Regions from separate parts of the Homo sapiens genome. Here all the other regions are linked to region 1. Evidence: fine-mapped expression QTL. A gene starts in region 1. Each other region holds a variant in brackets. All regions are shown on one strand. Distances are from middle to middle.

Region 1 (9,718 bases):
AGCAGGAAAAAAAGACACACGCACAGACATCTATGCATGCATAGACACACATACGTCAACACAGACACACAAGCACAGACATATCTATACACACACGTGGACACACATACACAGACACATGTATGCATTCACACAATACACACAGACACAAACACATATAGACTCAGATAAGCACACAGGCACTCACACCCCACACCCTGTCTGAGGCTCCCCTGACCCTCCTCGCTGGGGCAGCCTGGCCTCTTCACACTCCCTGCACCCTTCACTCACAGAGCCCTTGCTCCCTGGGGCCACAGAGCTGCCCCACTGCACACATCATCAGTCCCGGGGCCAGCCTCTCCCCCGGGGACCTGGTCAGCCCGTCTCAGCCATTCTGCACTCCTGTGGTTCTCTGACAGTGGCCCGTCTCCAGCAGCGTCCCACCAGGAGACCCCGCCTGGCCAGCTCACTGCTGTATTCCTGGCTCAACTCCTGGCCCTCCGTCCAGTAGGCCCTCAACCAACGTCCATCAAATGAACCCATGCAGCTGACATTGTCTCTTGAGCCAGTTTTTCCAAATCCCATGATCCCTGACACAGAAAGGAAACATCTGGCCAGTCCCTCCCACGGCTGCTGTGCCCAGAGCCTGTGAGCAAACGCCTGGCCCTTCCTGTGACGGTGGTCCTCGCAGGACCCCACAGGGCAGCCTCACATCTGGCAGGAAGACCCACCCGGGCCCCTTGGGCTCTGTGAGATGCCTGCTCCTGTCGGGCACCTTTCTGGGCAGTCCCAAGCACTAAGCCAGCACAAATGCAGTTTAAGAGGCTGATGAGGGAGGCCTCCTCCTGGGGGTGTGGTGATGGGGACCCCACGGGCCACAGCCAACCCCTCCCAGACGTCCGATGAATCACACTGAGTGTAAACTGCCTCTCTTCTAAAAGGTCTCAACATCACTCGACAGTATCATCAAAGGACTCTTCCTAAGGAAAATCACAGGGTAGGCCCGGCAGCCACACAGAGCCACCTTGGCGGGGTCAGGAGCTGCGGCTCCCAGGTGCCCCAGCCCTGCTGGGAGGCCACCCTCAGCCAGACCCTGCAGCCACACTGCCCTCTGCCGGTCAGCACCCTACCCCAAGCCCCAGCGGTCACCTAGCACCTCCACCTGCGGTCCCAGGCACCGGGAGAGGGAAGGCTGCCTGCACTGGGAGAGGGAAGGCTGTCCGCTTCACGGCCGGGGTTCTTGCTGCTTAGCTGGGGTTTTGGGAAAAGGCTTCACCTTGCCCTATACCGTTCTGTGTTGCTTGAGTTTTATAAAAAGTCAGTGTGACTTTCATAACTTGTTTTTTTCATTTAAAAAATAATAGGTGTTTATGATTATGAAAGTATATGAGAACTTTATGAAAAATTTGGGAGCTACAGAAACTGCTGAGGTGGAAAAGCCTGGCCTTTAGCCACCCAGAGGCCTCTCTCGGAGCCTGCCCTGCCCACTCCAAGGGTCACCTCCACACCCCACCCGCCCCGGAGGACCCAGGGTGAGTCCTTGGAAGCTTCCAGGGCTGTGCCTTCTCGGTGTGCTGGGCTCGATGGGACATGACTCTGTCCCCACCCACTAGGGGTCTTAGGAGGCTGCCTGGCTCCAGCACTCTTGAGGGGTCCTTACCCGAGTCACTCACTCATTCCCCGTGTGCCAGGTGCCTGGAGAAGCTGTGGGGACCCGGCCTAACAGGGCCCAGCCCTCAGCCGGGATCTGGATGGGAGTCGTTGGCAGATTCCAGAGCAAACACCCTGTATCTGTCGCCGGGCGACACAGTGACACCACCGCCAGCCAGTGAGCCTATCCGTGTCTCAGGAAGCGCCCTCTGCCCTCAGGGCCCTCTCAGGGGCACAGGCTCAGGGCAGAGGACCTAGGAACCTCCCTGTGACCTGCCCTGCCTGCCCAGAGGCGGGTCCAGGGCCTCCCAGGCCTTTGTTTTGCAGATCTCATTAGCGGAGACCTCTGCCTCCTGGAGGGGAGGCCAGAGCAGGTACTGGGGGAGGTTTTGGGGACGTTTTGGGCAGCCCCTGTGCCCGCAGTCCTCTGCTAGAGCCTTTCGGAACCTGTGTCTGTCCCGACCCCCCCTCCACCGGCGGCATCAGGGCTGAACAAAGTCTGACACTGGGGTTGACCATCCACTGACGTTGCCCTCTCCCTCCCAACCCCAGAGAGAATAGAGCCCCGCCCCCCACCTTCCCTCGCTGGGACTGGGGCACTGCCACGGCCCTGGGACTGGCTTCCAGGACGGAGGCTCCCGCCTGGCAGCACAGATCTCCCCAGGGAGGCCAGTGCCGAGGGCCTGACCCAGCAGGGGCGTCCTTGGTTAGAAAGGGTCCTCCGGGGCCTTGGGTGGGGCAGGCCCAGGGAGAGATGTCCAGTGACAGGGAAGGACACAACCGAGGGTCCGTCCTGCCTGCTGTGGGCAGTGGTATCAAGGACCGGGCCTTGCTGCCTCCTTGGATCAGAACGCCAGCCAGGAAGTCCTGTGGGTGCCCAGTGGCCCCTTCCAGGCACCGCCCCACTAAGGTGAAACCCTGCTCTTTCCTGCCCATCAGGAAGCGCCCAGGCCATGTTGCCAGGCCAGACTCCAGACAAGGCCACAGCCCTGGCCATGGGGCCTGGAGTGGGGGAGCTGGGCCGACGGGTGCCTGAATCCAGGGCTGCTGCAGGTGCAGGTTCCCACTCATCACTGTACCCTGCCAGGCTGCCCCCTCACCCTCTACTCTCTGCCCCCCTTCATGCCCAGCTGATGGGCATGGGGCTTTGTGCCTGTGCGAGGGATAGAGGGGGTTGCCCCATGGAGATGGGGGTGAGGAGTAGATTGCTGAAATGGGCATTAGGTATGCTAGAGACTTCAAGGAAGTGTGGGTGCCAGTCCAGCAGATCTCTGCAGGCAGGTGCTCCTGGAAGAGGGAGTGGCTGTGCAAAGAGGGAGTGGCCGTGCAAAGACGGAGGCCGGGGCAGCAAAGAGGCCTCGAGGCCGGGGCAGAGGAGCTGGCCTTCCCTCCAGGAGTGATGGGAACCACTGGGGGGACTTCGATGACCCAGAAAGATGGAGTGGGGGAAGACGTCAGCTGAGAGGCTCATTAGGAGGATGCCTGGGGCTGGGTGAGTGTTGGTTGGGAGCTCAGGGGGCCCATCTGAGCTGGGGATGCAAAGCGGGCCAAAGGCTGAGGCTGGGGCTCCACAGTTTTAAAAGCTGCAGACCAGGAGGGCGAGGGATGGGAGATTTAGGGAGCTGGAACCCGGGGCCAGGGATGTGTGAGCCTTCCCAGGAGGGGTCTGATACCAAAGGCCAAGTTAAGAAAATGTCTGAGGCCGGGCACAGTGGCTCACGCCTGTAATCCCAGCACTTTGGGAAGCCAAGGCAGGTGGATCACCTGAGGTCAGGAGTTCGAGACCAGCCTGGCCAATATGGAAAAACCCCGTCTCTACTAAAAATACAAAAATCAGCTGGGCATGGTGGTGGACACCTGTAATCCCAGCTACTTGGGAGACTGAGGCAGGAGAATGGTTTGAACCCAGGAGGCAGAAGTTGCAGTGAGCCGACATCATGCCATTGCACTCAGCCTGGGCAGCAAGAGCGAAACTCCATCTCAAAAAAAAGAAAAAGAAAGAAAAAAAGAGAAAACGTCTGAGAACCGACGGCTTGTATTTAAAACGTGTGAGTGGGTGGTGGCAGGAGAGGTAGACAGGGAGCAGGGCCGGCTTGGCGGAAGCTTTGCTGTAGAGAGGGGCAGAGATGGCTCGGTGGGTGGAGGGAGGGGCAAACGGTGTTTAAGAAGAAAAAACGACAGCTTCTGCGTAGGAGAGGGGCCTCCTGTCCATCTCCAGGGAGAACATGGGTTCTGTGGCCACAGGTCTCCCCAGGGCCTGGCATCAAGGAGGCGCCAGGCACGACCTGCGGGATGAAAGCACGTGGCTGAAGTCCTGGTGGCTGTGTCTGGGTGAGGGGTGTGAGGGCGTGGCCTGAGCAGGTCCACTCTCAGGGGAGAGGGGCCGAGGCCAGGAACTGGGTCTGGGTGTCCACCTGGTGCCTGGGTGAGGTCCTGCAGGCAGCAGGTCTGGGCTTCAGTGGATGCAGCCAGTAAGGGATGGGCTGATCAGGGAAAACCGTATTTTCAGGGGAGGAGCCCAGGAGGCAGGGAGCTGGGCGGCGGTGGAGGGGCCTGGAGGGCGATTGTCCAGATCAAGCCCCTCGAGTAAGGCCCGAGAGGCTGTGGCTTCAGAAATGAAGGTCATGGGCGACTCGGGCCAATGCCGCGTCCTTGACCTGGGCGAAGTGAGCGGTTGCACTCACGAGTGTGGACGGCCCTTCCCTACAGGGGACCTTGGATTCGCTGGGGGCGGAGTGGGGGCTGGGGCCCAGAGAACCCGAGTCCGGACGCTCCCGTCCGTGACCCTGGCCGGGTTCTCCGCTCCTCGCAGCTTCAGTCCGCAAGTGTGAGATGTCAGGGGACCCCTGGACGGCGGGGCCCTCGGGCTGGCAGCGCGCGCCGCAGGAGTTTCGATTCGGAGGGTCTGGGCGAAGGCCGAGAACTCGCGTTTCCAGCGAGTTCCCGGGGGCGCCGCTCCGTCCCAGAGGCCGGGGCCCCTCCGGTTGCCGGGCAGAGCCGCGCCGCGCGCGGTCCCATTGGCGCAGGTGCGCCGCGCCCCGCCCAACAGGTAGCCCCGCCCGACAGGTAGCCCCGCCCGCGCCTCGCCATTGGGCCGCGGCCGGGTGTCCCCCGAGGATTGGCCCAGGTGGCGGCCCCGCCTCGCCCTCATTGGCCGCAGGTGCCACCGCCCGCCCCGGGACCGCCCGCCCCGCGGATTGGCCGCTGGCTCCACCTCGGTCCGCCATGTTCGGACACCGCCCCCCGCCCCCGCCGGACGGTCCCGCCCCGCGCGCCCCCCGCTCCCGCCCCGCGCGCCGCCGGAGTTCCGCGGAGTTGACCGGGTCGGCGCCGTCGGTCCTGAGCGCTGCCTTCCGCGTTCCGCCGCGGCCCCACCTGGAGCCCCCGCCCCGCGCCATGGCCGGAGCTCCCGGGGCGCAGCGCTGACGGCGGCGGGGGGAGCGCGCCATGCCCAGCAGGACCGGCCCCAAGATGGAAGGGAGCGGCGGCCGCGTCCGCCTCAAGGCGCATTACGGGGGGTGAGCGGCGGAGAGGGCGGGGAGCGGCGCGGGTGAGGCAGGGAGGGCGGGGAGGGCTCAGCCGTCGGGGCTCCTGCGCGAGAGGGAGAGAGGGAAGGGGCGGCGAGGTCGCTGCGGGCCCGGGGCTGTCGCGGGAGGTCCTCGGTCCCCGCCCGTGAGCGTCACCCGCGGACACGTCGTGGACAGCGCGGGCTCCTTCCCCGGGACCGGGTTTCCCTGGGGTCGGCCCCGCGCCGCGAGCTCCTCGGCCCGGTCATTGTGGTAGACGTTTTCGCTGGAAAGTTGGGCGGGGACGTTCCGGCCGCAAACCTGTAAGGACTGAAAGTTTTCATCAAGTTGTGAAAACTCCTGGCGGGTTTCTTAAAATCAGCGTTTCCTAAACGTTCTCCACGTTTACCCGGTCGGGGGTCTCGCTTTAGCCAAAATCCGGAGACCCGGGGCGCGGGCGCTGTGGCTCCAATGCAGCCCCCGGCAGGGCTCGGGGCGGTCGGGCGGGGACAGGGGTTTCTGGAGGAGACGGTGGGGCCGAGACTGACCCTGGGGTTTGCGTCGCACCCGCCCCCCGGAGGCCCTTGCCTGGCTGTGGGAGGGGGCGCGGTCAGGTGCTGGAGCGGAGGGGTCCTGGACTCTTGGCCGCCGCCTCGGGGCAGCGCTGCTGGGGGTGGCGGGGGCTGCACCAGGTGGCCGGGCTCACAGGCACAGCGGAGGGGTCGCTGCCCCCCGAAGTGTGGGCGGTGGGGAGGGGAGGACCCGTGGGTTTGTTCTTCCACCTGTGCGCGTCTCCAGGAGCCCCGAACTGGGACCTCCGCTCCCGCGAGGGTGGCTGCTGCTGCAGAGAGGGAGGGGAGCAGAATGCGGGCTCCGGACTTGCACTGGCTGGTCCTTGGGATCTCGAAAAGCTGCTCCTGCCCCGGTGCGTCCTCAGCTACAGCGTGGGCAACCTGAGCCCCAGAGGCAGGGACGGCCGGCAGGGTTAGGCGGGTGACAACTTCCCCGGGCCACGTCCTCTCAGGACAGTGCCCCGGGGGTCTCTATGGTGCCCTGCGAGTCTGAGCGGGTTCAGCTTCCTGCGAACCTTGTCTTGGGGTCTCGGGTCAGCCATCTGGGGCTGCTTGGCCCCGGGTTTGTTGAGGAGGCTCAATTGTCTCTTCTTTGGGAAGGTTGGGGCCTCTGCAGCTCCCCTGTGGCAAGCACCTGGAACCTTCGGGGTGCAGTGGCCCGGGTTTGGTGCCAGAACCAGAAGAAAGGGATTTCTGGGGGACTGACCGTCCAGCCCTACCTGAAGAGGTAGGGCAGCCATGTCTTTTGGCCTGGAGGTCAGCAGGTTAAAACTTGGTATGGTTGACGTTCTGGCTATTGGACTTGTCCAGGGACCTGGGCTTCCTGTCTCCTTGCCATTCTGGAGCCACCACACTGGGCAACAGGTGATGGTGCGGAGCTCAGGGGAGTCCTGCGAGAGGGAGGTCCACACCCGAGGGGCTGCAGGGGCCCAGACCCTCCTGCATTCCGGCGTCCAATTCCTGGGACCAAGGCTCGGAGGCAATGCCACTGGAGTTCTGGGCCGCCCCGTCCTCCCTCTGCCTTGCTTTGGCCCCTGGGAGCACTTTGGTGGTGGGGCGGGTGTAATTCCACCCGGTGACTCTGGTTTCCCAGGCTGGAGAGACCAGGCTCCCACCCCTTCCTCTTCCCTCCCTTCCCGGACTCTCTCCCCTCTCTCCCCACCCCTTCCTCTTCCTCCCTCCTTCCCTGTTGTTTTCCCTCCTCTTCCCGCTCTCCCCTCTCTCCCTTCCCTGCCACACCTCTTCCTTCACCTTCCTCCCCCTTCTAGGGCACGTCTCCCCTCTGGCTCTTCCCTGCTCCTACCATTCCTTCTCTCCTCTCTCCCCTCCCAGGTCCTCCTCCTCTCTGCTGCAGAGTGTGAAGTACCCTTCTCCCCGTTCTGGCTCCTCGTCCCTCTGGGCACCCGGTGCCTCTCTGAGGGGACTGGCTGTGGGGTGGGACACTCAGGCCTTAGGGCAATGACACAGTTCCAGAAAGCGGCTGCCAGGATGAGTACTGGGTTATTGAAAGCCCTAGAAACTCTGTCCCTGGGGTGAGACGCTGCTGTCCGTGGGGGTAGCTGAGCGTGGACACGTGGAAGACTAGTCTTTAGAAAAAGGAAGAGCACTTCAGTCACCCCCATGGGGCATGGCCACCCCGTCATCCTTGCCTGTCCTCCCAGGGCCCTCTGAGCACACTTGAGATCCAATCCTCGCCACCCCACCCCGCCCCCTGTGGGCCTGAGGGGTCCCCAGGCACCTGTGTTTTCAGGGAGTCCCAGGTGGCCTGGGCCAGACTCCCACGCTGAGTCTCAGATGCCCGCTCTTCTAGGGCCACAAACACTGGTGCTGGCTCTTCCCTCTTTCAGCTCAGACTTTTTTTTTTTTTTGAGTCTCGCTGTGTTGCCCAGGCTGCAGTGGTGTGGTCTCGGCCCACTGTATCCTTCACCTCCGAGGTTCAAGCAATTCTCCTGCTTCAGCCTCCCTAGTATCTAGGACTACAGACGCCCGCCACCACGCCCGGTTAACTTTTGTAGTTTTAGTAGAGATGAGGTTTCACTTTGTTGGCCAGGCTGGTCTCGAACTTCTGACCTCGTGATCCGCCCGCCTTGGCCTCCCAAAGCGCTGGGATGAAAGGCGTGAGTCACCGCGCCTGGCCCAGCTCAGACAACGTTTGTGTTCAGGGAGCTTCTGTGTGCAAAGCCCAGGGCTTGGTGCTGAGGCCAACAGAGACGCAGGAGTCTCTCCCGGGCGGCCCAGCTGGCTGCTGGGTGCTGAGTCCTGGACGCCCCTGCTGAAGGGCACAGGGCAGCTGTTTGATTCAGGATTGGGATAGGGTTGGAGGTGGTGGCCTGACACTTCCCAAGCCCTGGGGTTTTACTGGAGCCACCCACCTGGCCTCTAGATTGGCCGGAAACTGGCTTCCACTGGAGGCAGGACTGTAGGGGTAGGGGCGTGGGGCAGGAAGAGGTCAAAGGTGAAGTGATGGCCGACTCCCACTCTGGAGTTCCTGGTGGTCAGACTTTTGGACTCCAGGTCAGGCAGCAGGCGTGGATGTCAGCTTGGGGCGACCCCAGGGTGATGGGTGTGTGACCCCCCTCCATTCCTTACTTTCCTAATCTGCCATGATGCTGTGGGCTGTGGCGAAGACCAGCCAGGTTGGTTCCTGTGGGGTGCTTGGGCACTGGGGGCAGGTGCTGGGTGGCCAGTTCCAGCAGGAAGGGGTGGGTAGCTGGGGCGTCTGTCCCCCAGGCCCAGGTGGCCCAGGGTGACTGGGTGAGGCCTGTGGGGCAGGTGGGCCCTGGGCTGCTGTGTCAGGGCCGCGGCTGTGGACCGATCCTGTGTTCTGTTTGCACTGGAGTTCTTGTCTGGGATGAGAACTTTGTTTCTTGAAACTTGTCTGATGAATTCAGATAACCTTGATGGGGAGCCAGCAGTGTCAGCGAAGAGCAGAGCCTGTATCTCTGGTTGGGACATCTCACACCCCTTCAGGCTTCTTTTTATAGGCCCTGTGCTCTTGCCCCGCGCTCTTGTGGGTGTCAGAAAGCCGTAGATTTTTCTGAAAATTCAGTGTGTTCACAAGGGTGTGATTCCCGCTCTGAGTTTCAGGAAACACCAGCTGGGCCCTGTGGTGGTCCCTCCCCTCCACGCAGGGTGAGACCAGCTCTTGCTCAGTGCAGGAGGTGAGGGGGGACCTCGGGTCCCTATCAGCAGGGAAGTGCCAGCCTTCAAAGGGTGCCTGGGAGTCCGTGAGCTTCCCCAGCCCCTGGAGTTCAGGTCCTGTCTGGGGCTGAAAAGATAAAACACACTGACTCTGTGTGACTCGGTTTTAAAAAAAAAAAAATCTGCCGGGGCTTCTGCCGTGGCTGCAGCAACGGACCCAGTGCCCACTCCGGGGTCTAAAGAGTGGCCTTTCATTATGGAATTATTTAATCCCCGCCACTTCACCGCTGGCACCGTCGAGGTCTGGGGGCAGGTCTGACTGGTTTCCTTTACCTTAGTGAAGCCGGCGGCCTGCACCGACCCGGCTCGCGCCCATCCCGGGGTCACCCACATTTGGGTGAACTTGAACGAGTGCCCGACCAGGTAACGTTGCCGGACCTCCCACAAGAGGGCACTTTCTTTTCTCCCATTTTGTCCTCATTCTTTCCAGCCAGGTAGGTCGCGCTTTTTTCTCTGTGCAAGGAAGTTGATGGTGGTCATTTTTTTTTTTTTTTTTTTAATACGGAGTCTCTCTCTGTCGCCCAGGCTGGACTGCAGTGGCGCGATCTCGGCTCGCTGCAAGCTCCGCCTCCCGGGTTCACGCCATTCTCTTGCCTCAGCCTCCCGAGTAGCTGGGACTACAGGCGCCCGCCACCGCGCCTGGCTAATTTTTTGTATTTTTAGTAGAGACGGGGTTTCACCGTGTTAGCCAGGATGGTCTCGATCTCCTGACCTCGTGATCCACCCGCCTCGGCCTCCCAAAGTGCTGGGATGACAGGTGTCAGGCACTGTGCTTGGCAATGGTGGCCATTTTTTAAACTATGGTTATGG
Region 2 (9,718 bases), 26 kb after region 1:
GGGTTCTGAGCAGGCGTGGGCAGCACCCAAGGAGGTGCATGGCCGTGTCCTAGTGAAACTTTATGCACGCTGAAATCTGAATTTTATAGACTCTTCCGGTGTTTCAAAATATTATCCTTTTCATTTTATTCAGCCAATTAAAAGCGTAGAAATCCTAGCTTGCTGATTTGGAGCACTAGGCAGTGTAGGTTGCCAGCCCTCGTTCCCCATAGATTTGGGAAGTCGAGTGAAACGCATGTGTTAGGTTTATATGTTTCACATTTTACGGAATGCCCCTCATGCAGCTGGTCAGCCGCCTGACGAGGGAAGCTTGGCCCTTTGGAGAAGTGGCCGTGCCTCGTGGTGAGCTGCTGACAGAGCTGGAATTTGAACCCGGGGCTCTGGCCCGGAGTCCACTCCGTGAATGCAGATAAACACAGGTTTATGAGCTTGATGATTTAAATGGAGGTTTTATTACTGTTCAGGCAGGTGTGGGAGGCCAGCCATCAGGAGATGATGCCGTTGAGAAGGTCGTTTATTACTCAGCTTCTGAGAGGAGACCTCCTCTTGCCTCGCGGGGCCATGCGGGCAAGCGCCGGGTGGGTTGGAGGCAGGGGGATGTGTGGGTGGGGCCTTTACTGTGGTTTCCATGGGAAAGGTGTGGGGAGCAGGCATTGGGTCGGCCAGGTGGAGTAACTTCAGCCAGGCTCTGGGGTGCAGGGGCTGTCCCTGTGACCTGGGGAGGCCCCTGGGGCGACTGGGGGCCCGTGTAGGAGGTGGGCCCAGGTGAGAGTTCTGGGTTGGTGGGTTTGCATTTGAAAGGTTCGCTGTGGGACAAGTCCTTTGCTGTCTCTAGGAATCGGTTGGCCTCTCGGGGCCGTCCCTCCAGGGTCAGCAGGGCCATAGGTGCTGGAGCATCGAGGGCACAGCACGTATGAATGCAGGGAGCGTGTGGTGTGACTGGTCAGAGCCAGAGGTCTGCAGGACACTCCCCTCTGTCCCTCTGCACCCCCAGTGCGAAGCGGCCCATGTAGGCTCAGCACGAGTGCCGAGTGCGTTTGGGGAAGTGGGCAGAATTCCCAGCTGAGCACCCCGCGACCCCCCATGTTTTTTATGATTGGAGGAAAATGCCAGGTCTCACTTGCCAGTGATGACCAGGTCCCAGGGTTTGTCAGGGTACCAGGGTAGGGGTTGGAGGGTCAGGCCACCCAGCGGCGGTGGCGGCTCTGGGTCTCCCTAGGAGCCCGGGCTGGCCACAGCCAGGCACAGCACAGCCCGTGAGGTCTGGTCTTGGGAATGCGGGTGTCTCCTGCCTTAGGCTGAGGGTGTGCGTTTCCAGGCCAGCCGGGACAGTTTTCAGCCTGGGGAAGCTTGGCCTTTCCTGTTCCTGCCCCCCAGTGCCCACCGTCCCCACACACACTGGTGGGGTTTGTGGGGTGGACACAACCACATCGCAAGGCCCCTATGCCTCCTCTCCTCCCGCTCCGTTCCTGGGCTGCGGGACAGTGCTCGGGGCCCTTGGCCATTGGTGTCGAGCCCATTCACAGCCTCTGGACGCAGGTCAGAGGTCACTCGCCACGGCCACAGCTGCGCTGTCCCCCACTCCCAGCCTGGCAGGCCAACCTGCAGGACCCCGGGCTTAGCTGGGTTCTGTTCTGATGTCGCATTTTCAAGGTCCGCTGAGTCCGAGCCCTGCCTGGGTCTGGCTGCTGCCCGCCCGCTCTCTGGACTGTGCTGATGCAGAGATGCTTGTTTTCCTGTGACGTCAGCGTCAGCTCCTGCACATCCATGCCGTGTTTTAGTTTGTGCCTCAGCTGCTGGCTACAGCTTCCCGGGGGAGCCGGGTACCACCCGGGCCTGGAGACATGAGGAGGCAGGGATGTGAGGGGCGGGGGACAGGACAGCCGGCCTTCCGTTAAATATCTGCTCCTCGCGCTCGAGCCTCCCTGCCTATTGTCGGGGCCGGAGGCGAGCCGACGCAGCATCAGCTCGTCAACGGGAAGGAAGATGCCTCCCTGCACGCCCGCCGCGCACAGAGCATAAAGAATCTGCGCTGAGGAGGCAGGAGAAGAAAGCCGGTGAGTCGGGGGCATCTCCCCCGTGGATTTTCCGCGCCCCCGGGGCCGGGCCAGCCGTGCTGCAGGCCCTGTGCGTGCGGAGGACGGTGCCCGAGTCAGCATTTTGGGTCTGAGTCCCGGCGTTGCCGCTGCCTGTGCGCTGCACAGATGCTCCGGGCAGCAACACGGCTGGTGCCACGGCCCGGGGAAGGCGTGCGGCTGCAGCAGCTCCCAGCAATGTCAGGGGAAACGCAGTGAGAGGCTGTTGTTTTGCGGGTGACAGATTTTTAGAAAAATAAGGCTGTGGAGGGACCTTCTGAGCGAGGCAGGGGCTGCTGGAGGGACATGCTCACCCCGAGGACGGATGGTGTGTGGCCCAGGCCTGGTGGATGTGTGGCGGTGGCTGTGGAGGGCTGGGGGCCGGGGGGCTTGGGGAAATCGTCTTGGGCTCGTCTGCCTGCCTGGCCCCAGGGAGTTGCTGGCTGTTGGGAGTTTCACTGTGGCCGATGCTTTTTGGTTGTGGGTCTGTGGGTCTGTCGGGGCCAGGACGGATGGCCGCTTCGTCTCCATTCTGCATTGCTGCAGGTGGGCAGATTGATGAGACCACGGGTGAAGTCTGGAGACCCCAGGTGCCAGGGCTGGTAGTGGTAACAGCCAGCACCTGTTCCAGGCCTGCGGTCTTTCCGTCTCGAGCCTGCCCTCCCGCCTGTCTGAGCCCCCGTTTTGCATTGACAGTGTTGGGTTGGAGTCTGGGTGGCACAGCCAGGGTTAATGTGCACGGCTCACTCCATCGGGGTCCTCGGATGGTGGCGAGGAGCGGGGCTGCGGCGTCCTGTTTTCTATTCTGAAATGGTTGGAGGTAGACTCGGAGGGGTCTGGGGGCTGCATGGTGTTTGGCAGGGATGTGGGAATGTGGGTGCTTTTCTGACGACCATTTTGCAAGGTGTTTTTTTTAAAAAAAAAAACAACAAAAAACCAAAACAACAACCAGCCTCCCCAGTCAGGCTTGTGGGGAGCCGTGGGCCTGGGGAGACTGGGCTGCTGAAGGTGGGGACTGGGCTGCTGGGGGAGGCGGCTTTCCCTCTCGGGGGGTGCTGGCTGCTGGGGAGGCTGGCAGCGCGCCCCTCCCCCAGGTGCGAAGGGACCTCAGCAGACGCAGGGCTGCTCCGCACAGCCAGCTTGGGCCGCAGGGGTCCTTGAGTGATGAAGATTCTGTGTTGATGGGGTGAGTGGGAGAGAGACGGAGCTGGGGTGGTTTTCACACGTGCGCCTGCCTGCGAGGAGAAACGTGCTGTGTCATAGTTTCCTCGGTGCCTGGGACGGCTTGGCCTCTGCTTTCGTGTGAGCCCACGCTGGCCATGCACAGCTGGCACGATCCCTTGCGGTGTGAATACACTGCTGGGGTGGGAGCGCCGTGGCCAGGGTCAGGATTCGAGCGGTTACTGGCTTTTGGTCTGATGGCCCTCGGTGGGTGAGTCAGAGCTGGGATGGGGACAGATTGGAGGGGCCACCGGCTGCCCCCCAGAAGCTGTTTCGTGTTGATGCTGCCGGGGCCGGCTGTGGTACCTGTGTCTGTGTCTCGGCCAGATCGGCACACATCTTCCGCGTTCCTGTCCCAGCTGCATCAGCCATCAGTGGGGGCCCTTCTCCGACCGTCTTCCTAGACTTCAGAGCCACTGGTGGTTATGTAAGGAGTTGTGTGTTCCTCTGCCCAACTCCGAGCTTGGTCCCACCTCCCAGACTCACCTCTGGGCTCCGGGCTCTGCTGCGATGTTTCCGAGGCTCCCAGTTAATCAGATCTGTCAGCCCAGTGTCCACAGGGTGCCTGAGAGCCCAGCCCATCCACACTGGGTGCCCCAGACCTTCCACGGGGTCTGGTGGGGACCTGCCAGGGCTGTCAATGGCCCCAGTGGAGAGGCCCACTGAGCATCCTGAGAAGTTCCCGTGCTTGTGACCTGCTCTCGTGTGTGTAGCAGCGGGGGCTGCGTCTCATCTGCCACACGTTTCTGATCGCCGAGGACTCAGCCGGGCACATGGAGGTTGAACTGTTGGGGGGCGGGAGGACCATCCATGGGGTCAGGCACCAACCTCTGCTGAGGATCCCAAAATGTGGGGTAGCCATCCTTTCTTGTGCTGGCGTGGAGCTTTTCCCAGGAGCTGGGCAGGGAGCTGTCACAGGGCCAGGCCCCTGAATGGGCTGTTTGGGGCCGGGGCTGAGGGGGTGCCCAGTGCCATCGAGGGGAAGCCTGTGGGAAAGTGTGATGACATCTGAAAAACCAGGAGCAGGTCCCTTGCTGTGCTGGTCGTGGTGCTCGAGTGTGGGCTC[A/G]GCAGGTCTGGTCTCCTGGCGCCCACTCACTCCCTGGCCATCTCCCCACCTCCCTCACATGGCAGGGGGAAGTGGAACGTGCGGCCACTGCTCCCACCGTCCCTCACAGCACAGGCTGGACAGGCACCCTGAGGCATCCCCATCTCCCAGCCCCTGGGGTTGGCATGATGCTGGGCCTCCAGAAATGTTTGTCATTTTATGCAAAGGGCAGAAAAAGCTTTGTTCAGGCCAGGCACAGTGGCTCACGCCTGTATTACCAGCACTTTGGGAGGCCGAGGTGGGGGATCACCTGAGGTCAGGAGTTCAAGACCAGCCTGGCCAACATGGAGAAACCCCGGCTCTACTAAAAATACAAAAATTAGCTGGGCGTGGTGGTGAGCGCCTGTAATCCCAGCCATTCAGGGGGCTGAGGCAGGAGAATCGCTTGAATCCGGGAGGCAGAGGTCACAGTGAGTCAAGATTGCGCCACCGCACTCCAGCCTGGGCAACAGAGCGAGACTCCATCTTGAAAAAAAAAAAAAAAGGAAAAGCTTTATTCAAAAGAAGCCACCTGAACCAGTCGGTCGTCCAGTGTTCAGCTTGTTTTTGGTCATAAAGTGGTGGCACTTGTCACTCATACAGGAGACGCTGTGGCAGAGCCCCTCCACGCATCGGGGCCCGGCAGCTCATTTCTAGGATTCTCCTGAACACGCGAAGGAGGGCACCCACCATGCTCGGGACTGGCTGCTTCTCTGTGAGGCCTCCAGGCAGAACCAGTGATTCCACCGTTGTGGGGCAGCCTTGGTGGGCCCACAGGTCTGTTGTTCCCCCTGAGAGAGGATCAGAGTCAGGAGAGGCGAGACACCAAGTTGACACGAACAGATCCCTGCTGCCGGTTGTTCTGGCGGTGCTGTGAGCACGTCTGACGGGTGTGAGGGTGCTGGGGCTTCGTTTCGTCCACGCTCACGTATCGGGCACACAGGAGAGTTTACACGCGCTCTGGTGGGTGGAAGGGGCCCTGACTTGATGTTATTTTGAAATAGGGGGTTTGAGTGTGTCTGGTCTTTCTGAAGTTTTCTTTTTGAACGTCTCTTCTGTGGGAAGTTTGAAAAGATTCAACCGACTGCAAGACGGAGCCGCCCTGTGTCTGTTGGGGCTGTGGGGACCCAGGTGCACTGGCAGCTCAGCCGCATCGTGGGCCCAGATGGCTTCTTCTGTTTGTTCCTCAGCGAACCTTGATTGTTGAAAGAATCCCGTGAGGCTGTGTCAAGTGTAGACAGGCCAGGCCTGGTGTCTTGTCCTGGTCAGGAAATTGTGTTGTTGCCCTTGTTAAATGGTTGTGTATAAAGTTTGCATTGTACATTATATTTAAAATTTTATTTTGAGTTTTCCATATTTTCTATTGTAAGGTGTTGATAGTTCTGTGGGACTCACAAAGAGAGAACAGGTGTCCCTGGTCCTCCCTGCTGCCCCAGCTCCACTCCCTGGAGGGGATCACAGCAGTTTCTTTTTGACATTTATTTCCAGATTTCTAAATGACACATTTCTGCTGCTATTTCTAGTCGTTTCCATTTAGGATGTTACTTCCCTACTTTCTCTGGGACACATCAGCTCATCTCTTCCTTCCTTGTTCCATCCTCCTGATGGAGTTATGTCACTGTTTATTGTTTTTAATCATTGAGTGTTTACCTAATTGCGGGTGACGTGAATATGCATGAGCTACCATGATTGCATTCCCTTGTTGGCACAACTTTTGGGTTTCCTTGGAGTTAATACATTGTGATTGTTTAAATCAGTTTCCTAGATGTCTTGTCTCAAATTTACTCCAGTTTCCTCTTCCCAGAAGAGGGGCAGCTCCCACCGATGCCTGCCTCACCTCCCTCCTGGTGCACCTGGCCCCCCACACAACATGCCGTGGGGCTTCCCTGTGCCCCGAGCTGGGAACAGTCCCCTCCTCTCTCCTCTGCCTACAGTCTTGATCTCTGGCTCCCTCTCTTCCTCTTTCTTGGCTTAATGTCCGGTTAAGACCCTCCAGCAGCTGTCTGAGAAAGATGGCGTGGGAGGCCAGTTTGGGGGATCTAGTTGGAAAATGCTTTTCCTCCAGCCACACACTTAAGGATAGTTTAGCTAGGTATGAAATTCTGTATTGGAAAGAATTTTCCCTCTGCATTTCGAAGGGATCGCTCTACTGTCTTCTGGCTTCTTGTGTGACCGAGAAGTCAGGTGCCATTTTGATTTTGTGTGTTTTTCTCCTGAAAGTCTTGTAGAATCTTTTGTCTTCAGGGTTCTCAAGTTTCATGATAATGTTCCTTGTCGTGGAAACTTCTTTGTCTCTTGTGCTGGGAACTCGTGCTGTGGAACCTTGCGACATTTGGATGTGAGGAGCTTTACACCCAGTTATTTATCACATGGCCGACTCCCCGTCTCTGACTCTCTTTTAGAGTTAACGCTGATTATTTGTTGGCCCTCCCAGGCTGGTCCTTTAATTTTCTTCTCTATTTTCCATTTCTTTGTTTATGTTATATGCTAGGAGACATCTTCAGGTTTCTCTGTCCAAACCATCTGTTAAGTTTGTTAGTTTGTTGCCTTGTTCCCGTTCTTGTCTTTCGATCTTTTTTCTCTGAAGGTGGCTTTTTTTTTTTTTTTTGAGATGGAGTCTTGCTCTGTCGCCCAGGCTGGAGTGCAGTGGCGTGATTTCGGCTCACTGCAACCTCCACCTCCTGGGTTCAGGCCATTCTCCTGCCTCAGCCTCCTGAGTAGCTGGGACTACAGGCGCCCGCCACCACGCCCAGCTAATTTTTTGTAGTTTTAGTAGAGACGGGGTTTCACCGTGTTAGCCAGGATGGTCTCGATCTTCTGACCTTGTGATCCGCCCGCCTCGGCCTCCCAAAGTGCCGGGATTACAGGCGTGAGCCACTGCGCCCGGCCTGAAGGTGCCTTTTTAAGGCAGAGTGCCCTGCCCTTGTGTCAAAGGCATATCGCACTTTTTCTCTGGGGTTATTCGTCCCGGCTGAGAAGCACCGCGGTATCATGTGGTGATTGAGCAGCACCCAGCACATTCATGGCTGCGAGGCTTCCCGCGTGTGAACTCATTTAATCTTCTCAGTTCCTTGTGGGCACCATTGTTTTCTTTGTTCTGGGTAAAGATTAGCACTGAGGCACAGACAGGTCAAGAAATTTCCCAGAATCGCACAGTTTGAGCTGGGACTCAAACCCCAAGGGCTGGGCTTAAGCCCACGCTATTTGCCGCGTGCCCCAGGGCCTGAAGCTGCGTGGTCAGGCCCCAGCTCTGCTGCCCACCAGCCACGTGACCTCGGCCACAACGCTGTCCACCGTGTCCCGGACCCTCATAAGTGAGCGTGATGGTAAAAGGCTTGGCTCCCAAGGCTATCATGGGATTAGCCAGTAACTAAGCCACAACGCTGGCCCCGCGGCTGCTGCTGATGGCGGCACATGGTGGGAGCATGTGTGCTGGCAGCGGTTGGTGATAACGTCTCCTTTTGGTGTTTTCTTTGGCCTCGTACTCAGCTGTTTTCACCGAGAGTCCCTTTTTGTGTTTGTCCTGGCCTTTGCGGCTTCCTGGGCCCCTGGTGACCCGCATTTGTCTGCCCACATTGACTCGTGGGGCACCACAGAGCTGGTGGTGGCGGAAGTCCCCAGGGGAGTGTCCTGCCTGGGAGGGCCGGGCATCTCACCCCTAGTAAGGAGTCTGCTGCCCCCGCAAGCCCTCTCGTTCCCTGGCTGCTTTGGGTGAGGAAGGGGGTCTGGGGGTCGACTCCTCACTGACTGGGACCCTGCACAGCAGGTGCCCCACTTTCCTGCTACCTGGAGCCTCTGACTTGGGGCCCTTCTTTGGGGTTCGGCCCAGTACAGTCTCCTGGTGGCCACGGGGCCCTCTGCCTTCCAGGTCCCAGGGCATCCACTACCCGGCCTGTCCTCCTCTTTGCTGTTACGGGTTTTTTGGAGTTTTTCTTCCTTTGGTCTTGGGAGGGAGAGTCAGTCAGTGATGTGTTTGAGCTGCTGTGTCCACCTGGAAACCATCGTGATGACGCTTTCTGAAGGCTAAAGTATGCAGGAAAACCAGAGTTGGAGAAGGTCTTTAGGTAGGGGCAGTGCGCGTGGACGTGGCGGTGCGCGTGGACGTGGCAGGTGTGGACCAGCACGTCCCACTGCTCTGCATCCTGAGGGGCCGGAGGGTGTGGTGCAGGGTTTTAAGGAGGGCAAAGGCCCCTCTGTTTGTTTTTCCTTGATGCTGCCCCCCGTGCGACCTGGGGGCAGTTTTCAAATGCTTGACCCAGGTAGTTTAGTTCTGTCACCCCCTCGTTCAGTGGGGTGGTGGGAAGACCAGTTTTTGGAACAGTTTTGGATTTACAGAAAAATCAGGACAGGAGTAGAGCACAAGCATTCCCTCCCTGCTCCCTCCTGGTCAGCGTAATGCGTGAGTTACACTTCACCAGCCAGTCTCGGCACCTTTCCAGCTAAGGCTTTATTCCGCTTGCCTCAGTCTCCCCTCCTGCCCCCTTTCTGTCCCAGGATCCCGTCCAGGGCCCCACGTGGCACTTGGCCGTCACGTCTCCTTAGGTCCCTCTCACTGTGGCAGGTCTCTCAGACTTGCCTCATTTTCAACGACCTTCGTAGTTTTAAGGAGGGCTGGTCAGGTGTTTTGTGGGACAGCCCTTCGCTGGGGTTTGCCTCATGTTTTTCTCATAAGGACTGGGGCCTTGTGTTTTGGGAGGAGGTGAAGCCTCCTTATATCGCTGGGTCCAGGTCCACACCCTCCACGCAGCCTGTCCGTGCTGGCCTTGCGTGTCACCTGGCCGCGGTGTGTTTGTCGGCTCACACCTGCCCGTGCCTCTTCCCCCGTGCTGTCCTGTCTGCGGAGTGAGGCGTGCGTGGCCCACACCTAAGAGGTGAGGAGCTACATACGTGATGTCAAGTTTTGCACGGGACTTGTACGTCTGTTCTCCCATTGGTTATTTAATTATTCCTTTCTGTTCATGTGGACTCGCAGGTGTCAATTTCATACTTGGGTTAGAATCGGATACCGTGTCGCTTACTTATTGCTCAGATTGTTCCAGCTTTGGGCACTGGGGCCCCTGCAGGCTGGCTGTTGGGGCAGCGATGAGGCCAGACACTGGGTGGGTTGGGGGTGGGTGCTGACGGGTCTCTGGCAGGAGGGGGCAGGCTGCAGGGAGCAGGGGGAAGCAGGTCCCAGGCCCAGAGGTGGGTCTCGGGCGAGTCTGGGCTGTGGGCATGGACCCCCAGAAGGGGCCTGTGTGGCCAGGACGTCCCATGGCTGCAGACCCCGGTGTGGGGTGTGGGCCCTGGGAGGTGATTGGTACTGCAGCCGGAGCTCCAGCATCATGCCAAGGTGGTG
Region 3 (9,718 bases), 120 kb after region 1:
ATACAGGCCCCTGCCACCACACCCAGCTAATCTTTGTAGTTTTAGTAGAGACGGGGTTTCACCCTGTTGGCCAGGCTGGTCTCAAACTCCCAACCTCAAGTGATCCACCTGCCTGGGCCTCCCAAAGTGCTGGGATTACAGGTGTAAGCCACTGGGCCTGGCCCGAAACTGGCATTTTCATTGGGATTTGTTAAGTTCACACATTACCTGGGGCGAAATTGACATCCTTCTAAGTGTTGGATCTTCCCATTCAGGAACCCGGTTTACCTTTTCATTCACTCACATCCTCTTTCAGGAGACTCTTGAAGTCTTCATGTGGTTTTCTTCACTTCCTTGTCTAATTATTATTATTATTATTTTTACAGATGGGGGTCTTGCTATGTTGCCCAATCTGGTCTCAAACTCCTGGGCTCAAACGATTCTCCCACCTCAGCTTCCCAGAGTGCTGGCATTTCAGGCGTGAGCCACGGTGCCTGGCCACTTCCTTGTTTAATTTTGTCTTGAGTGTTTCATCTCGTTTCTGTTATAAACGAGGTATTTTTTCTTCTCTCAGAGCATCCAGCAGCAGGCAGCTTGGTCTCTGCGTGGTAACTGTGGGCCCCATGGCTTCTGAGTTCTCTTCCTTGTAGTAACTTTCATGGCTTCTGAGTTCTCTTCCTTGTAGTAACTTTCATGGCTTCTGAGTTCTTCCTTGTAGTAACTTTCAGGTGGTTTTCTGGGGCTTTGGATGCACAGGGTTAGCATCTGCAGGTGGGGCAGCATCACCCACCTCAGCCGCTGCAACCAGGTCGTGCCGTCTCTGTTCATCTTCCTCTCTGGTGACAGTGGCCAGCACCTGCCTCACTGGGGTGACGTTGACACTGGACGGCCCTGTCCTATTCCTGACCCCAGCTGGAACACTTTGCACCGGAAGCGCAGTGCCATCCTCAAGGCAGAACGGAAGCATTTACCCATCTCGGGCAGGCAGCATTTGCCCTGGCATGTGCAAAGGGTGTTGGGAGGGCCACAGGGGAGAGGAGAGACAGGGGCTCTGCCTGCAGCCGTGGAACTGGGTTCTGGAGCCCACAGAGGAGCTGTCCCTGCCTGAGCTGTTGGAGACGGGAACGGACCCTCCCAGTTCCTGGGCCCATCATCTGGTCTCTGAGGACACCTGCTGGCAAAGGCCCTGGCAATGATACATACAGCCTCTCAGCCCCCAGCCACTGGGAGAAGGTTCTAGAAAGGCTGAGCAGCAGCGTGAAGCTGAGAGAAGATGACCGATAACTGCATGCAGAGGTGTGACTTGTCCTATTAAGGGACTTTCCACCCATTTCTGTTTTGCTATCAAGAAAAAACACTGAGGCCGGGTGCGGTGGCTCACGCCTGTAATCCCAGCACTCTGGGAGGCCGAGGCGGGTAGATCACGAGGTCAGGAGATCAAGACCATCCTCGCTAACACAGTGAAGCCCCGTCTCTACTAAAAATACAAAAAAAAAAAAAAATTAGCCAGGTGTGGTGGTGGGTGCCTGTAGTCTCAGCTACTTGGGAGGCTGAGGCAGGAGAATGGCGTGAACCCGGGAGGCGGAGCTTGCAGTGAACGGAGATTGCACCACTGCACTCCAACCTGGGCGAGAGAGCGAGACTCCATCTCAAAAAAAAGAAAAAAAAAAGAAGAACACTGCAAGTTGTGCAGGGGCCTCCTTGCCATTTGTGGAGATCATTGTTACGATTTTTACTCCTTAGGGCCTCCTGGAATGAATGGTGTCATCGTAATGTAGCTGCTGGTATTGAACCATCCTTAGATTCCTGGGGAAAACCGTGCCCTGTCTTAGTGTGCTACTCTGTTAATGTGCTTCTGAATTCAATTTGCTGATATTTTATTTAGGATTTTTTTTGGTTGATATTCATATTGTTTTAGTTTAGAATCTTCAGGACACAGAGCTACTGCTCCAGTGATCAAGGGAGACACAGGATGGAAACACACCTTTTGTCACCCACAGGCCTTGGGGGTACACAACCTGCTGGGAGGCCAGGGAGCGTAAAGAGAGACAGGGACCCTTTATTGGGTCCAGGGTGTTCTGCACACAGGTTTCCCATGGGAAGTTTTAACTGATGGACTTAAAGCAAGCAGGCCTGAGCTCCGTGGGGCCACACTGTGACTGTCGGGGGACTCTGCAGTGTGGCTGCACAGTCCATGTTGGGTGTGGTATCAGTGGGGCTGCAGGGAAGTCACCAGGGGGCAGTTGCATAGGGTGGGTGTCTGGATGGGCCAGCTCGAGGAATGGGGGATGTGGAACTGGAAACTGTCAGGGCGACAGCCCTGCTTCTGGTGGGAGAAAGTCCAGCTTAGATCCAGAATGGATGCCGAGGCAGCCTAAAACCATGAGCGTTCCCTGCACACTCTGGCGTCTGATCTCTAGCTTCCCTTTCTTGTGCAAGCTTCATTGGATTTTTAAATTTTCCTAATTTTTCAATTCCCGGGAACATTCTAAATTGCGTTATTACCTCTTGGCGGGATCCCTGTGCGATTGCCGGGCCTTGGGTGTCGTGGAGGGCAGCTGCCTCGCTCCGCCCTGGCTTTCGTGATGTTGTGAGCTTTACCCTGCCGAGGCTGGGTGTTCTCACCCAGTCCCACGGCTGCACCCTGCCTTGCCTTCTCCTCTGCTCAACTTCACCCCAGGCCGTGTCTCCTGGCTCCAGGAAGGTGAGGGGCTGCCTCCCATGCGTCCTTTCATGTTGAGGACACCCGTGTTTGCCTTTGCACGTGAGCCCCATTGTCGCTGGGACACACTGCCCTCCAGTGCTCGAGTGCATTTCCTGGGCACTTTCTGGCCTTTTATCTTTGATGGAGAAATCCGAGGCCTGCCAGCATCCCCACCAGTAGATTTCTTTGGACGAAGTAAAATCCTTCTGTGGATTCAGCTTTACCGCCTTTCCTCATCTGCTGGTGTCTTCCTCAGAGCTTTAATGTCCGTCCTGCTCTCCGAGTCAGGAATCTGATTTTCCAGCGTGCCCTGTAATGACGGTGCTGTCACCGCTGTGATGTCCGCTGTGAGGTGGGGACAGGACCTGGAAGTGGGGTTTCCAAGTGAGGGTTCTGGGCCCGCCCGAGTCATCTGATGTTGGGTCTGACAAGCCAGGAGCTGTGTGAGCCGGAGAACGTCCCCTAACCTGTCTGTGCCTCGGCTTCCCCATCTGTAAAATGGCGAGAGCTGAACTTACTTCCTGGTGATGGGGTCAAGTGCGTTAACACAGAGGGACTTGGAGACTGACGCTTACTGAGGGCCACACCAGCGGTCAGCAAAGGTTGTCTTAAAGGGTCAGGCAGTAAATATTTCCACCTTTGTGGGCCATGCGGCCTCTGTGGCAACTATGCGTTCTAAAACAGAAGCAGCCTTAGACACTGCGTGAAGGGACGCGTGTGGCCGTGTTCCACCAGAACTTTCTGTACACACATGGTGGTGGCCCGCCCGGACCCATCTGGTTAATTCTTGACTCTCAGGGCAGCGTCTCCTGTGCCTCCAGGAGAGGGCTGTGGTTCCTCCCTCTGAGCCGGGCACCTTGCATTCCTGGAAGGGGTGGGGGGAGTGGCGAGGAGGGGGCGGCACCAAGGACAGGGCCCACCTCCTAGGAGGTTTTGTGAGCTTCCCTCAGCCCCCGGCCGCCCCCTAGGAGGTTTCGTGAGCTTCCAGCATCCCCCTGCGGCCACTGTCCCTCCATTTCCCATGTCTGTTGGATGGTGCCGGTTCCAGGGCAGGGTCAGGGACTGGATCCGGCTGCGGTCTGCGTCTCGCCTGGTTCCTGAGAGCTGCACTTTGTCTTTGGTTGTTGATGAATCCATTTTTGCTGGCGTTCTTCACGTTTGTGTATTTGATTAAGTATCATGGACAGGCATGTGCAGTGGCTCACACCTGTAATCCCAGCCCTTTGGGAGGCTGAGGCCGGAGGATCACTTGAGGCCAGGGGTTCAAGACCAGCCTGGGAAATATCTCGAGACCCTTTCTCTACAAAAAATTTAAAAATTAGCTGGCGGTGGTGGTGCAAGCATGTGGTCCCAGCTCCTCGGGAGGCTGAAGCCGGAGGATTGCCTGAGCCTGGGAGGTCGAGGCTGCAGTGAGCCATGATCACACCACTGCACTCCAGCCTGAGTGACAGAGTGAGATCTTGTCTCAGAAAAACAGCCCCGAGGGCACGTGTCTCATGACTCCCGCCTCCCGCCTCCCATCTGGGCTCTGCTTGCTCCTCTCCCCTTGCAAACATGAGAGGAGCGTTAATGCCAGGACAGGGAGCAGGGAGGGGCATCCCCAGCGCCTCCAGGCCACAACATGGCGAGTGTGGCTACCAGGACACGGAGGGGCAGCCTCAGCCCCCTCCCCCAGGCCACGACATGGCGAGTGTGGCTACCAGGACACGGAGGGGCAGCCTCAGCCCCCCCCAGGCCACGACATGGCGAGTGTGGCTACCAGGACATGGAGGGGCACCTTCAGCCCCCCACCCCCACCCCCAGGCTGTGCTTCCCAGCATCCCTTGGGGTCAGGACTGTGTGTGTCACTGAGGGGCTACGGGTGAAGCCACACACGCCCCTGGCCTGGCCTTGCG[C/T]CCCTGCCTGAGAGCCTCTATGCAGGACAGCGCCTGTGGGGCACCCAAGTGGGCCGAGCCCATGTGGATTACAGGTGCACACCACCAGCGTGAGGAGAGGAGTGGGCTCGGAGCATGCTCAGCCATGGTCCCAGGCATCTTGTCAGCAGCCAGCTCAGCTTGTGTCACGCAGAGTCGCCTTAGAGTGAATTGACACCAGATTGTCCTGGTGGGTTTTTGCTCTGAAGAAATGTCAAAAGTAGCATTAAGGTTTTTCTGTAGACAAAAAAACCCCACCATCATTGCAGCTTGAGCAGTTGCAAATTAAATAAATTCCTTCCTCAGCAAGCTGCCTGGGTCCTAGGCCTTGGGCAGAGAGAACTGGCTTTCAGCACAGTTCCCGTGATTGGCTTTTCTCTGGAGAAGAAGGGGAAGCGGCCTCCGCCTCTACCTCTCTAAGTGTTTAAATGTCCCCCAAATTCTCTCAGCCTCCTGAGGCATTGTATTGATGCTTTTCTCTAGAATTCATGTATTTCTTTATTTTCTCTGGAAATGGCATTGGCTTTGTCCCCGTCCTATGGGCCGTGATAGCTTAAAGTTAGGATGAACCCACAGAGGCCGTGGAGGCCCTTCCCAGGCGCCGCAGCAGCACTGTTGGGGTGAACGTGGCTCCTCTCGGGGGGACAGGTGGAAGGGACCAGCACCCATTGGGGCGTGTAACTCCTGGTGGCAAAAAATGTGCGGTGAAGTCACCCTAAGGGTTTTTGTGGTTTTTTGTATTTTTATTTTATTCTTTGAGACAGAGTCTTGCTCTGTCGCCCAGGCTGGAGTGCAGTGGCGCAATCTCAGCTCACTGCAGCCTGTGCCTCCTGGGTTCAGGCGATTCTCCTGCCCTCAGCCTCCCGAGTAGCTGAGATTACAGGTGCACACCACCAGCCCTGGGTCATTTTTGTATCTTTAGTAGAGATGAGGTTTCACCATGTTGGCCAGGATGGTCTCGAACTCCTGACCTCAGGTGATCTGCTTGCCTTGGCCTCCCAGAATGCTGGGATTACAGGCCTCGTGAGCCACCACGCCCAGGCACTCTAAGGGTTTTGAATAAATTCTTTCTTAACGTTTTCTGACCGACTCTTAGGTCGTGGGTGTCCTCCAGGGGTTGGAGGCCTTCATGGAGCTTCGTTCCGTGGGGTTGACGTTACTGAACGAGTCCCTCCACGGGTGCACTGAGGACGTTCCTGCACATCGAGGGCACCCTCAGAGCTGCTCTTTCTGTCATTGCTATTTTGTTTATACCGGGGATTGGCAAACTTTTTCTTGAAGGGCCCAAGAGTAGACATTTTTGGCTTTGCGGCCACAGGGTCTCTGTTAGCAACTCCCTCTGCCACGGTGGCTGGAAAGCAGACATAGAAAATAGATGCACCAGTGAGCATAGCCTCGTTCCAATAAAACTTTATTTACAAAACAGGGAGCAGTGGACCAGCGAGTCCCCAAGGACAAGGGCCAGGTTACCAGAGAATTTCCAGGCACATCCGTTGGAGGCAGGGGAGACAACAAAAGCCGAGGAACGAGCCTTCCCCAGCCGCTCCCCAAAGGCACGGCTTATTCTTCAGGGTGCCCGACTGGCCACGTGGACGTCTCTCCAGCTCCTCACTTGGGGCCCAGGGCTCTTTCGATTTTTAGGAGTTTGTTTCCAATCAGAAACTTCACAGATGATTTGCAGCCAGTTCACCTGCCCTGTGTAAACTGGCCTCTGTCCTCTCTGGCTTAATTCTGGGAGCTTGTGGAGGGCAGGAGCAGGGACAGGTGCCTTGAGGCGTAACAGTGGCGGTGGTGTGGGAGCTTGCGTGGGATCGAAGGAAACGGGCAGAGTCACCACACGCTTCCCTCCTTCACTCCCCGCTCCACGAGGGGCAGCCAGGAGCAGCCACCAGTCGGAAGCAAATAAACAATTCAGGTGCCAGAGGAGCCGCTGACCTAAAAAAACCCGCCACAGGGTATTTCTGGGAGATTGTATGAGAATTTAATTTTGAAAATTGAGTCTCATGAAATGTAGGAAAAGATCTTATTAGGAAGAGAAACCATGTGGCCCAGTCCCTGAGACGGGAAGGGCCTGCGTGGTCCTGATGACATCTGCGGATCTTTTAAAATCATACGATCATGTCTGCGAAACCGGGATGCCACTTCCCACCTGGCTTCTCCCTGACCCCAGCTTGTTCCCTTGGAGGGCCGGTGGACTCCTCAGCCTTGCAGCAATGAAATCAGGCCTTGAGGCCACCCCACCCGTGACCTGCGGTGCTGTCCCCATGCAAGAAACTGCCTCGCTCCAGCCCCCAGCAGATCCTGTCCCAGCCCCCAGCCCTGGTCCAAGCCACCTCCACTCCCACCTGGTGACGGGCCACCTCCTTCATTCCGGGGCCCACCCACACTTCCCAAGTCCACACACAGTGGCCAAGAGTGAAGGCCGGCGAGGCCCCCGCATGACTCCCTCACCTGCACCCTTCACGAGCGGCCCCGCAGCCCGTCCCCACCAGCCCCTCTCTGCTGCCAGGGTGCTCCTGCTGCTCTTTGCTCTTTGCAAGACTGAACCTGCGGGAGGGTTCGGGCCCACGAAGGCCGCTTCTGTGGGGCTTCTGTCTAAGGAGGCCGCCGTCTGCCGAGGTGACTGCAGCCTCCGGCGCCTCTCTCCCTGCAGGTTGTTCCTGGTCATTGAGTACGTCAACGGCGGGGACCTGATGTTCCACATGCAGAGGCAGAGGAAGCTCCCTGAGGAGCACGCCAGGTGGGTGCGCGTGGACGGGGCCGGGTGGGTGCGCCCGGAGTTGGGGATGGGTGGGTGCGTGCGGTGTTGGGGGGCTGGGTGGGTGCGCACAGAGGGATGACGGGTGGGTGCGCGCGGAGTTGGGGGGCCGGGTGGGTGTGCGCAGAGGGGAGGTGGCTGGGTGGGGTGTGCACGGAGGGGGTATGACGGGGGCGGGGGGGGCGGGGTGCACGTGGAGGGGGCCGGGGACCTTCTCCAGGGGTCAGCAGGGAGCTCAAGGGAGGGAAGTCCAGGTAGGATGGCAGAGGGCATCATGTCCCCCACAGTGTGACGTCCCCTGCATTGTGACACATTCCATATTTGCTCCAGAGTCACAACATTTGGGAGGTCTCCTGAGTTATGGTGCCTCAGACCAGTCCCCCAGGCCCCACCCCTGAAGCAGCACCATGCCTCATCCGAGAGAAGTGAGAGTCTCCTGGGATTGTGCTGTCTTCATGGTGGCTCTGCCCTGGTTCTGCTCTTCACCCTGTTAGTGGCACAGCATGGCCAGCATTTCCTCAGCGTTAGGAGCAGAACGAGAGTGGTCTGTTTCTAGAGTGACCTGAGAGACTCCTTCCTGCCCTTCCCTTTCATCTCTGATATCTTCGGGCCTCCCCTGGCAGCCGAGGGGCCTCCAGCATGGTTCAGGAGCCTCCCCCGGCAGCCGCGGGACCTCCAGGACCGTTTGGGGGCTTATTTCAGCTCCCTGGACCTTTCCTGTCTTTTGTAGTTTCTCCTTTTCCTCATTTCCTTACTTAAGAACGTTGCATGCAGTTTTGTGAGTCACCTTAGATTGTTTCTGGCAATAGGACAGTAGGCAATAAATCTAGAACAGTACACTTCCCACAACGCTGTTTTTAAAAACTGTGGCAACACACAACATAAAAGGTAGCATTTTGGGGCATGGAATTCAGTGGCGTTGAATGCACCCCATGCTTTGCAGCCACTGCTGGCCCCCGTCTCATCTCCAGAGCACGCCCCTCTTCCCTGCTGAAGCTTGGCCCATCAGACACTCCCTCCCTGTCCCCCGCCCCAGCCTCACATCCTCACCCCAGACGGGCACGTCCCACTTTCTGTCCCTCTGATTCGAGGACTCTAGGGACCTCATCGGAGTGGAATCACAGTGTTGGTCCTTCGGTGGCTCATTTTCCTGAGCATAGCGTCCTCAAGATTCATCCGTGCTGTGGCCTGTCTCAGAATTGCCTTCCTTTTTCAGGCTGGATAATGCCCCGTTGGATGGAGGGGCCACACTTTGCTTATCCGTCCATCCCTCGGGGGGCACTTGAGTGGCATCCACATGTTGGCCATGGTGAACAGTGCTGCTGTGAACATGGGTGTGAAGTAATCTCTTGAACACCCTGCTTCCGGTTCTTTGGGGTATACACCCAGAAACTGAATTGCTAACCACATAAGAATTCCATATTTAGGCCGGGCGTGGTGGCTCACGCCTGTAATCCCAGCACTTTGAGAGGCCAAGGCGGGCGGATCACGAGGTCAGGAGATCGAGACCATCCTGGCTAACACGGTGAAATAACACAGTGAAACCCTGTCTCTACTAAAAATACAAAAAATTATCCAGGTGTGGTGGCGGGCGCCTGTAGTCCTAGCTACTCGGGAGGCTGAGGCAGGAGAATGGCGTGAACCTGTGGGCAGAGCTTACAGTGAGCCAAGATCGCGCCATTGCACTCCAGCCTGGGTGACAGAGTGAAACTCTGTCTCAAAAAAAAAAAAAAAAAGGTCATATTTAATTTTTTTTTTTTTTTGATGGAGTCTCGCTCTGTCACCCAGGCTGGAATGCAGTGGTGGGATCTCAGCTCACTGCAGCCTCTGCCTCCCAGGTTCAAGTGATTCTCCTGCCTCAGCCCCCAGAGTAGCTGGGACTACAGGTGTGCGCCACCATACCCGGCTAATTTTTTTGTATTTTTAGTAGAGACGGAGTTTCGCCATGTTGCCCAGGCTGGTCTTGAATTCCTGACCTCAGGTGATCTGCCTGCCTCGACCTCCCGAAGTGCTGGGATTACAGGTGTGAGCCACCAAGCCTGGCACCGTGTTTAATTTTCGAGGACCTGCCGGACTGTCTTCCGCAGCAGCGGCGCTGTTCTGCACTCCTACCACAACGTGCCATGGCTCCGGTCTTTCCCGCATGGAAGCTGTCGTGTTATTTGCCCGCTCCTCCCCTTGTGGAGGCTGCCACATCGTTCTCTGTGTCTTTGACAGCAGGCCATCCTAAGGCGCATGGGGTGGTGTCCTGGAGCTTTCATTGGCATTTCCCTCCCTGGCCCTGTGCACTGCACTTTCAAATCCTGGGCCTGGTCATTGAGAGGATGCCGGGCCCGTGGTGGGGCAAACGGGAGTGTGTGGCCC

The links. PIP is the estimated chance that this variant, and not a neighbour inherited with it, causes the effect.
Region 2: its variant is the best candidate, but not a certain one, in a credible set for the expression of PRKCZ in blood mononuclear cells (TOPMed, PIP 0.89).
Region 3: its variant is the best candidate, but not a certain one, in a credible set for the expression of PRKCZ in whole blood (TOPMed, PIP 0.84).

What each region holds. Positions count from the first base shown.
Region 1 is chr1:2,045,555-2,055,272 of GRCh38, forward strand. It overlaps PRKCZ (protein kinase C zeta), which reads left to right and starts at 4,857. Exons shown (of 18, transcript NM_002744.6): 1 at 4,857-5,147. The coding sequence starts at 5,077. PRKCZ-DT (PRKCZ divergent transcript) reads right to left here and starts at 4,516. Exons shown (of 3, transcript NR_135509.1): 1 at 4,314-4,516; 2 at 4,044-4,112; 3 at 3,647-3,914. It overlaps LOC105378590 (a long non-coding RNA gene), which reads right to left and starts at 1,893. Exons shown (of 4, transcript XR_007065357.1): 1 at 1,640-1,893. RefSeq lists enhancers at 992-1,745, 1,746-2,499 and a silencer at 4,435-5,044.
Region 2 is chr1:2,071,873-2,081,590 of GRCh38, forward strand. The region is part of intron 4 of PRKCZ (protein kinase C zeta); the gene reads left to right. Among named protein-coding and RNA genes, the nearest start is that of PRKCZ, 26 kb to the left of the region's middle. The variant A/G (reference allele first, on the strand shown) is at 4,363.
Region 3 is chr1:2,162,269-2,171,986 of GRCh38, forward strand. It overlaps PRKCZ (protein kinase C zeta), which reads left to right. Exons shown (of 18, transcript NM_002744.6): 11 at 7,250-7,336. Among named protein-coding and RNA genes, the nearest start is that of PRKCZ-AS1, 17 kb to the right of the region's middle. The variant C/T (reference allele first, on the strand shown) is at 4,579.